Linked DNA regions of Homo sapiens: region 1 is reported to be linked to region 2. The links are microRNA targets in miRTarBase. Many come from high-throughput screens and were not tested one by one. Region 2 holds a microRNA gene; the other region holds the end of a gene's coding sequence.

Region 1 (4,000 bases), not on the chromosome of region 2:
GAAAAGTCTAAAGATATACTTTTGGTAACTTCATAAAATTCAGCCTCTTTTGACAATTTTAAATAAGGCTTTTTTTCTTGCTTTGTTTTTGTTTTGTTTGGGAGGATTACAGTTTAGGGATAAGCTTTTCAAGTTCACTGTATTTTTCTAGCATCAATCCTGAAGTCTTGTATTTCACATGTCAGAGTAATCTGCACTAGTATTTTGAGCAACTCTCATTTTATGGTCAGATGTGGCAGAAGTTTTCCTAACCATATTAGTAGGAGCTTTCAAACATTTTTTAAAGGAAAAAAAAAAGGCCTGTCTTGTGGTGCTTCTTCCCACCACTCCATTGATCTGTGTGGCAAGGGTTCCTACAAAATTCCCAGGGAAGGGGTAACTTTCAGTGCCATAAACCCCATTCACAGTAAGGATTTTCAACTACACCCTAAAACTATGATGGTTCTGGGCTCCTCCAACATATAGCTCAGTGAAGATCATCTTGCCTGAGAACTCTGAGGTCCTTTTCACTGCTGCCAAGAACATAAAACTAGGAGAGGGTATCTGAATGGTGAATGCAAAGTCAGCCTGCACTGTGTAGCAGTTTACATGATGAAGCCGAATTTAAGAACTGATCTGCTAGATGGATCCCACTGGTAGAAATGATCCCCTTGCCAAGGTTAAGTGTCACCTCTAAAGGAAGCCCTAAGTCCAAATGAGCCTTGTTTACAAGGTATAATATAAAGAGACCTATCCTTCTAATAGCTAAGTGACCTCCAATCCCAAAGCAGCCACTCTGGGAGACCACACACACCACAGCAATGCTATCATGGTTGGTAACAAGGAATCCCTCTTTGGAAACAGCTTTCTAAGCTTCTAGCATTTTTAATACCCGCAAGGTAAACTTTCATCCTTTGAGGCTGTAGTTCATTGTGCTAACAATTCAAGATCAAATCTTGTGAGCCAGATGGTACAATCCAGGTGGATACTGTAAATTTTCATCAGTATCAAAAACAGCGACTACAGAATAATGACAAACTTTTTGTGTGGTTCATAAACTGATTCCAAAAGTGACTGCAGAACTAGCCAAAAAGCAACAAGTTTGTACTAATAGCTACTATTTATTAGATAGTCTGCAAAGCACTGTGAAACATTACATACATTATCTCAATTATTTTTTATGAAAACCCTATGAGGTGGATATTTACGTCCACGTCTACAGATAATGCAAGAGTTTCTGAAAGAATAAGCTACAAACCCGTGACATGCAATTTACCTATTAAATGAATCTAAAAGTTTAAAAAAGCTGGGCGCAGTGGCTCACGCCTGTAATCCCAACACTTTGGGAGGCTGAAGTGGGCAGATCACTTGAGGCCAGGAATTTGAGACCAGCTTTGCCAACATGGTGAAACCTCGTCGTTACTAAAAATACAAAAATTAGCCAGGTGTGGTGGTGATGCCAGCTACTTGAGAAGCTGCAGCACGAGAATCACTTGGACCGGGAGGCAGGAGTTGCAGTGAGCCAAGACTGTGCCACTGCACTCCAGCCTGGGCAGCAGAGTGAGACTCTGTCTCAAAAAAAAAAAAAAAAAAAAGCCACTTGCCCATGATCACGCTGCTAGGAAAAGTCAAACCATAATTTAATCCTAATCTGTCACACACAAAGACAACATTGACAGGAATAAAACTTACTTCCATGTAGGAGAGATGCAAGTTGTCAAAGAGAAGCAGAATCACTTTATCATATACAGAATCAATGTCATCACTGTCTGAAAAAAGATGCTCTGAACAATTCTTCCAGTTTATTGATTCTGAACCTGCCATGTCTTCAAAAATGGCATTATTAGTGAAGCTGCTCAACAAGTCCTCTGAAACAAAACAGCTAGCGAAATGGGTATTTGTATTTAGTCTAAATTATACTTTTAGGACTTCATCTTATAGCTATACCCTGAATCGATATGCTTAATAACATTAGGATTGAAGTTATCACTGTAATAGCAAAAGAACAACCTAAGCATTCACCAGTAGCAGATTAAATCAATTATGTTATATCTATTCAAAAAAATTTTAGGCAGCCAAAAAAAGAATGAGGTTCCTTGCTACTTACATGCTGGTATAGAATGATCTCCATTAAAAAAGAAAAAAAGAAAAAAAAAAGGCGAGGGCTAGACCTCCATGTATAGTTACTATTTGTGTTACACGTGTTTGTTTAGGCACAGACTCTTTCTCAAAAGTATAAGGCGAAGTGGTAACAGTAACTTGTCAAACAGGAGCCAGGAGCCAGAGAACAGGGGTGGGAGAGGCCCTTTATATGAAATTACTTTTGTATCTTGTCCCATGGCAAAAGTTAATTATTCAAATTTTTTTTTAATTTAAAAACAATACAAGCTGATTATACATTTGACAAATACAAGGAATTTCTGACTGCAGGAAAAAACAAAGCATCAACTACAAAGAGAAGCAGAAATTCTTCTTGAGCTGCTGATTTTACTATACATTTGGGCTATATTTTTTCTTAAGACAATCACTACAAAGTAATAATATAAATACCTTTTTTAATGTGAAAAGGTATAAAATCTCCTTTAAAAACTTTTCACTTATCCATCATATAACATCAAATGTACCTGTAATCCCAAGTATGATTCTTTTGAGAAGGAAAAAAGTCAGATCAAATACATCATTAAGGAAAAACATGCACACTAAATAGACTATGAACTCTACTGGGACAAAGACCATTATTTTGTGTATTTTTTCATTCCCCAATTCCTGACAGGATTCTCAGAATCGTTTCTTCATGAATAGCAAATTGACTTATTGGTTAAATTAGCAACTACAGAGCTGCCTAACAACAGTACAAAATAAATGAATAATTCACCAGAAACTAGCTCTAGATACTAATTTTAATTACTTTGCAGCAACATAATTTAGTACCAAATGTTTAACAAGTACCCATTATAATTACTAAACTGTGAAGTCACTATTATTTGTATCTGACCAGCTATACAAAACTCATCAATTTTTCTTTTGAAAAAAGGTAGTAAAAATCGCAAACGATAAAGAAGACACTACTCATTAAAAGTCATGTTTACTAATCTAGCACCATAATTCCAGTCTTAGAACCTCCCATGCAGTTGGAAAGGGATTATGGGAAGAGGTGAGTATGTTGGAAATGTCGGGTAGTTCTCAAATTGGGGCCCCATTTTGCTTGCTTTAAAGCAAAAAACACAGGGTCTAGCAAAGAAGAGAAGTGCTGAGGCTGGAGACGAAAACAAAAGCTTTTGGTTCAGATAGTAAACGAGGCCCTCAAGAGCAGTAGAATCAGTATATCCTGAAGGCAGTGCTGGAGGCAGTCTCATGCACTAGGGGGTTTCTTCTTGGCATCCAAGTCCTTTTTAATTTCTTCAAGTTTTTTAGCCAGGTTTGGTATCTTTGAAGAGAAAAAAGGTTATTATAATTTTGCATCTACCTAATCAATATTCTTGTACTTCTCTTCCTCCAAAGATAAATGGTTTTACAAGCTTTTATCTTCCTCCAAAAGAGATCTGCTAAATAGTGGTTATTTCTTTTTGCTTTCTTTTTTAAGATAGGGTTTCACTCTGTCACTCAGGCTGGAGGGCAATGGTGCAAACACAGCTCACTGCAGCCTTGACCTCCAGAGCTCAAGTGATCCTTCCCGCCACAATCCCGCAAGTAGTTGGGACCACGGACATGCCACCACCCCTGGCTAATTTTTGTATTTTTTGTAAAGATGGGCTTTCGTCACACTGCCCAGGCTGGTCTCGAACTCCTGAGCTTGAGCAATCTGCCCACCTCGGCCTCCCAAAGTGCTAGGATTACAGGCGTGAGCCACTGCACCCGGCCAATAGTGGTATTTCTTAGCCTTATAACTGCATGTGAAAGATATCAGAAGTTGTCAGATAAGTATGCTCCTTCTCTGAAACCCACTTCTACTTTTGTATACCCACTTCCGCTCGATCTGGTGCCAAGTAAAGGTTGTACATATAAACAATAAATGTGACAT
Region 2 (4,152 bases):
CTTTTATGTGGCCTATTTTTTACATGGAATTTTTCTCTAAGGAATGCCTCTCTACATTCCTACATTACATTAGCTATAAACTCACCTTGCCCCAGTATACCTAGCGCAGCTTCAATTTTTCCAATGAGGTTGCATTCTAGTCTTTTGGGTGGCCAATTCTGATGTCTCCAGGAATGCTGTTGCCATAATATGCTAATGGAATTAGTGCAATTTGGATAAATGAAGTTAATCCAGAACTGTTGGGTGTCCCAAACAATTGTTAGGTGGGTGGAGGCCTACCAAAGTGCTGGAATCACAAGTTTTTGTTTTTTTTTTGTTTTTTGCTTTTTTTTTTACACAGAGTCACAAGTTTTGTTTTGTTTTGTTTTCACACAGAGTCCTGCCCTGACGCCCAGGCTGGAGTGCAGTGGCATGATCTTGGCTCACTGCAAACTCCGCCTCCCAAGCTCAAGCAATTCTCTTGCCTCTGCCTCACGAGGAGCTGGGACTATAAGAGTGCACCACAACGCCCAGCTAATTTTTTTGTGTATATATATATATATATACACAAATATATATATACAAACACATGCATATATATACATATATATATATGTATATATATATATTTTTTGTTGTTTTTGAGACGGAGTCTTGCTCTGTCGCCCAGGCTGGAGTGCAGTGGCGCGATCTCGGCACACTACCAGCTCCGTCTCTCAGGTTCACGCCATTCTCCTGTCTCAGCCTCCCGAGTAGCTGGGACTACAGGCGCCTGCCACTACACCCGGCTAATTTTTTTTTTTATATTTTTAGTAGAGACGGGGTTTCACCGTGTTAGCCAGGATGGTCTCGATCTCCTGACCTCGTGATCTGCCCACCTTGGCCTCCCAAAGTGCTGGGATTATAGGCGTGAACCACCGTGCCCAGCCTTTTTTGTATTTTTTTAGTAGAGAAGGGGTTTCACCATGTTGGCCAGGGTGGCCTGGAACCCCTGACATCTAGTGATCCACCCTCCTTGGCCTCCCAAAGTGCTGGGATTACAATCATGAGCCACCACGCCTGGCCATCCAGCCACGTTTTTCTTATATAGGGTTCTTGTCAATGTAAAGACTAAGCTCAGTTGTATCTATGTGCAGACGGGCAGACAGCATGACAAAATTTATTATTTTACTGATTTAATGAAAACTATGCTTGACCTTTTGGTGTGTAAGTACATTAAAGCATAACTATAATTATGTGAAAGGATACATTGTTATGGGGATCAGGACATCTGGACTTTCTGTTGTTGTAGGAGTTTGTCCTTACAGGCATTATCAAGCTGCTTTCTTAATTGTAAACATATCAGGACCATGGGTTGTCACTGGCAAGGAATGTGCCTTGCTAGTTTTAAGATGGGGTTGATTTTTCAATGGTGTCACTGGCTCTCCTAGGCTCCTGCTTCCCTAATAAGAGGACTGCTTGAGGCCAGGAGTTTGATGCCACCCTGGGCAAAATATTGATACCTTGTCACTACAAAAAAAAAATTAGCTAGATGTGGCAGTGTGTGCTTGTGGTCCTGGCTACTGGAAGGCTGAGGCAGGAGGATTGCTTGACCCCAGGTGTTGGAGACTGCAGTGAGCTATGATCGTGCCACTGCACTTCAGCCTCAGAGACAGAATGAGACCCTGTTTCTTTCCCTCTTTTTTTGGCTTCATATTTTGTAATATTTTATTTGAGCACTGAAAAATTCTAGAAGTTACATAAATATAAGTAACTCATTTTACAGATTAAAAATTTGAGATTGAAATATTAGGCAACTTGCATGAGGTCAAAACGTGGCAAGATACAGAACAGAGACTGAACATACGACTCAAGATTTTCTGCATGTTTTACATTGGTGGGCTCAAATTTATTCAAATGACAGAGCCTCTAAGTGTTATGGTGTCCCTTGAGAAACATCTGCTTAATTCACAAGACTACATTATATGTACACAATATGAGAATCATGAGAACATATGTCCATGTCAAAAACATATGTCCATGTCAAAACTGTCTGCTAAAAGAAATATGAACTATTTATAAGTTTTCCATGAATATTCATATAGCAATTAATAATCAATTTACTACAACCCTATGAGACAGATACTAGTATTACCCTCCTTTTGCAGATAAGAAAATGGCATAGAGAAGTTAAGTCACTGGCCCAGGGTCACACAGCAAGAAGTGAAGATGAGCCTCCAACTCAGGCTGTCTGACTGTAGAACTCATGATCTTTAAGCATTATTCCATCATTTTGTCATCAATGAGGAGGAACAAAAACATTTACACATTAGTTCGTATGTGTGTTTCTCTGTGAGAGACCCTATTTCTAAAAAAAAAAAAAAAAGAATTTGTTGAAAGGACGCCACATGCAAAATTGATTGGAAGGGCAAACAACCAGTTCAGAAAATGTGAAAGAACAAATATTTCTCTGGCAGCCAGAACTAAAGCAAAACTCAAGTCAGTGCAAATATCAATAAGTCTGATAACACATTTCTAGGAGGGATGGGTGAAATGGCACCATTATATATTGCTGGTGTAGCATAAATGGGCATAACTTCTCCAGAAGGCACTTCTGTAATACCTTGTCAAAATTCCAAATGCCAAATGTACACACCTTTTGAGAAATTGCTTCTAAAAATATTTTGGCATAGAAGTGAAATAATGTAAGTAGAAGAGTATTCACAACAGCACTGTTTGTAATGGCAAAAGATTATAAGTCACTTAAATGTCCACCAATGGAAACTTAGTGGATTATGATACATTTTTACAATGTCTACTCTGAAGATAAAAAAAAAAGAGTGAGCAGGTCCTTGATGTACTCATATGGGACATGCTACATAGCATTAGAAGCAGTTTATATACGTAAAATATATATGTATTTTACATACGTACAAAAATACACACATGTAAATGAAAAACAAAACTATAAGCCCTCAAATGACTAAATGGACCCCCTCTTAGCCAAGAAGACACCAGAGAAATCTTAAAAATTAGTTCCTGGCCATGACAGGAAAGGAGGTCAGAAAGGCCTCAAGACATCCCCTCCCTTTTGGAATTTAGGCACAACTGACTAGCAATAATGTTACAATAGAAATCAAAAGACTGACAGAACAAACTCTGTGGCAATAAAATACCAAATTATAAACAGGACCTAAAGCCATGCAAGGCAAGGGTTAGGTCACACCTGCAGGCCATCTGTCTTGATAAGTAGGTCATTTTGACCCAGTATATTGAAGCTTGCTCTCACAACCGGACTCTGACACAGCATCCTTATCCCAATTTCAACATTCCTTTCTGCTAACTCCAAGTTTTTAGACAAAGCTTTGTTCCTTTAACCCACTGCAAATTTAAAAAATCTCTGAACCCACTGTGACCTGTAAGCCCCTGCTTCAAGATATCTCATGTTTTCGGGCTAAACTAGTGTATAACCTCCATGTATTGATTTACGGTTTTGGCTGTAACTTTTGCTTCCCTAAAATGTATAAAACAAAGTTACATTCTTGAACTCCTGATCTCAAGTGATCCGCCTCCCTAGGCCTCCCATAGCGCTGGGAGTATAGGCTTGAGCCACCACTCACCGCCATAGACAAAGTTACATTCTGACTGCCTCAGGACCACTTACTCAAGGCTTCTTGGGTTTGTGTTTTCCCTGGGCCTCCATCACTCATACTGGCTCAGAATAAACCTTAAAATACTTCACAGGGCCAGGCATGGTGGATCAAGCCTATGATCCCAGCACTTTGGGAGGCCAAGGTGGGGGAATTGCTTGAGCCCAGGAATTTGAGACCAGCCTAGGCAACATAGTGAGACTCCATCTCTTAAAAAAAATATATATATATATATATTTTAGTGTGTGTGTGTATATATATATAATGTGTATATATATATTATATATATATTTATATATATATATAAAATATATATATACACATTATATATATATTTTATATATATATATATAAATATATATATAATATATATATACACATTATATATATATACACACACACACACACATAAGCCAGGCACGGTGGCTCATGCCTGTAATCCCAGCACTTTGGGAGGCTGAAGTGGGCAGATCACAAGGTCAGAGTTCAAGACCAGCCTGGCCAATATGGTGAAACCCCGTCTCTACTAAAAATATAAAAATAA

What was found. The annotated mature microRNA hsa-miR-3168 reads GAGUUCUACAGUCAGAC and lies in region 2 at 2,208-2,224, opposite strand. An mRNA with a match to its seed (bases 2 to 7 or 8) in the 3' UTR can be bound and repressed. Matches are read on the target gene's strand: a 7mer-m8 pairs with bases 2 to 8, a 7mer-A1 pairs with bases 2 to 7 and ends in A, and an 8mer does both.
Region 1: miRTarBase lists STMP1 as a target of hsa-miR-3168. Seed matches in the 3' UTR shown: 7mer-A1 at 3,157-3,163.

The regions. Positions count from the first base shown.
Region 1 is chr7:135,673,497-135,677,496 of GRCh38, reverse strand. STMP1 (short transmembrane mitochondrial protein 1) reads right to left here. Exons shown (of 3, transcript NM_001130929.2): 3 at 1,081-3,406. The coding sequence ends at 3,332. Among named protein-coding and RNA genes, the nearest start is that of STMP1, 13 kb to the right of the region's middle.
Region 2 is chr13:41,098,869-41,103,020 of GRCh38, forward strand. It overlaps MIR3168 (microRNA 3168), which reads right to left and starts at 2,232; the gene lies at 2,151-2,232.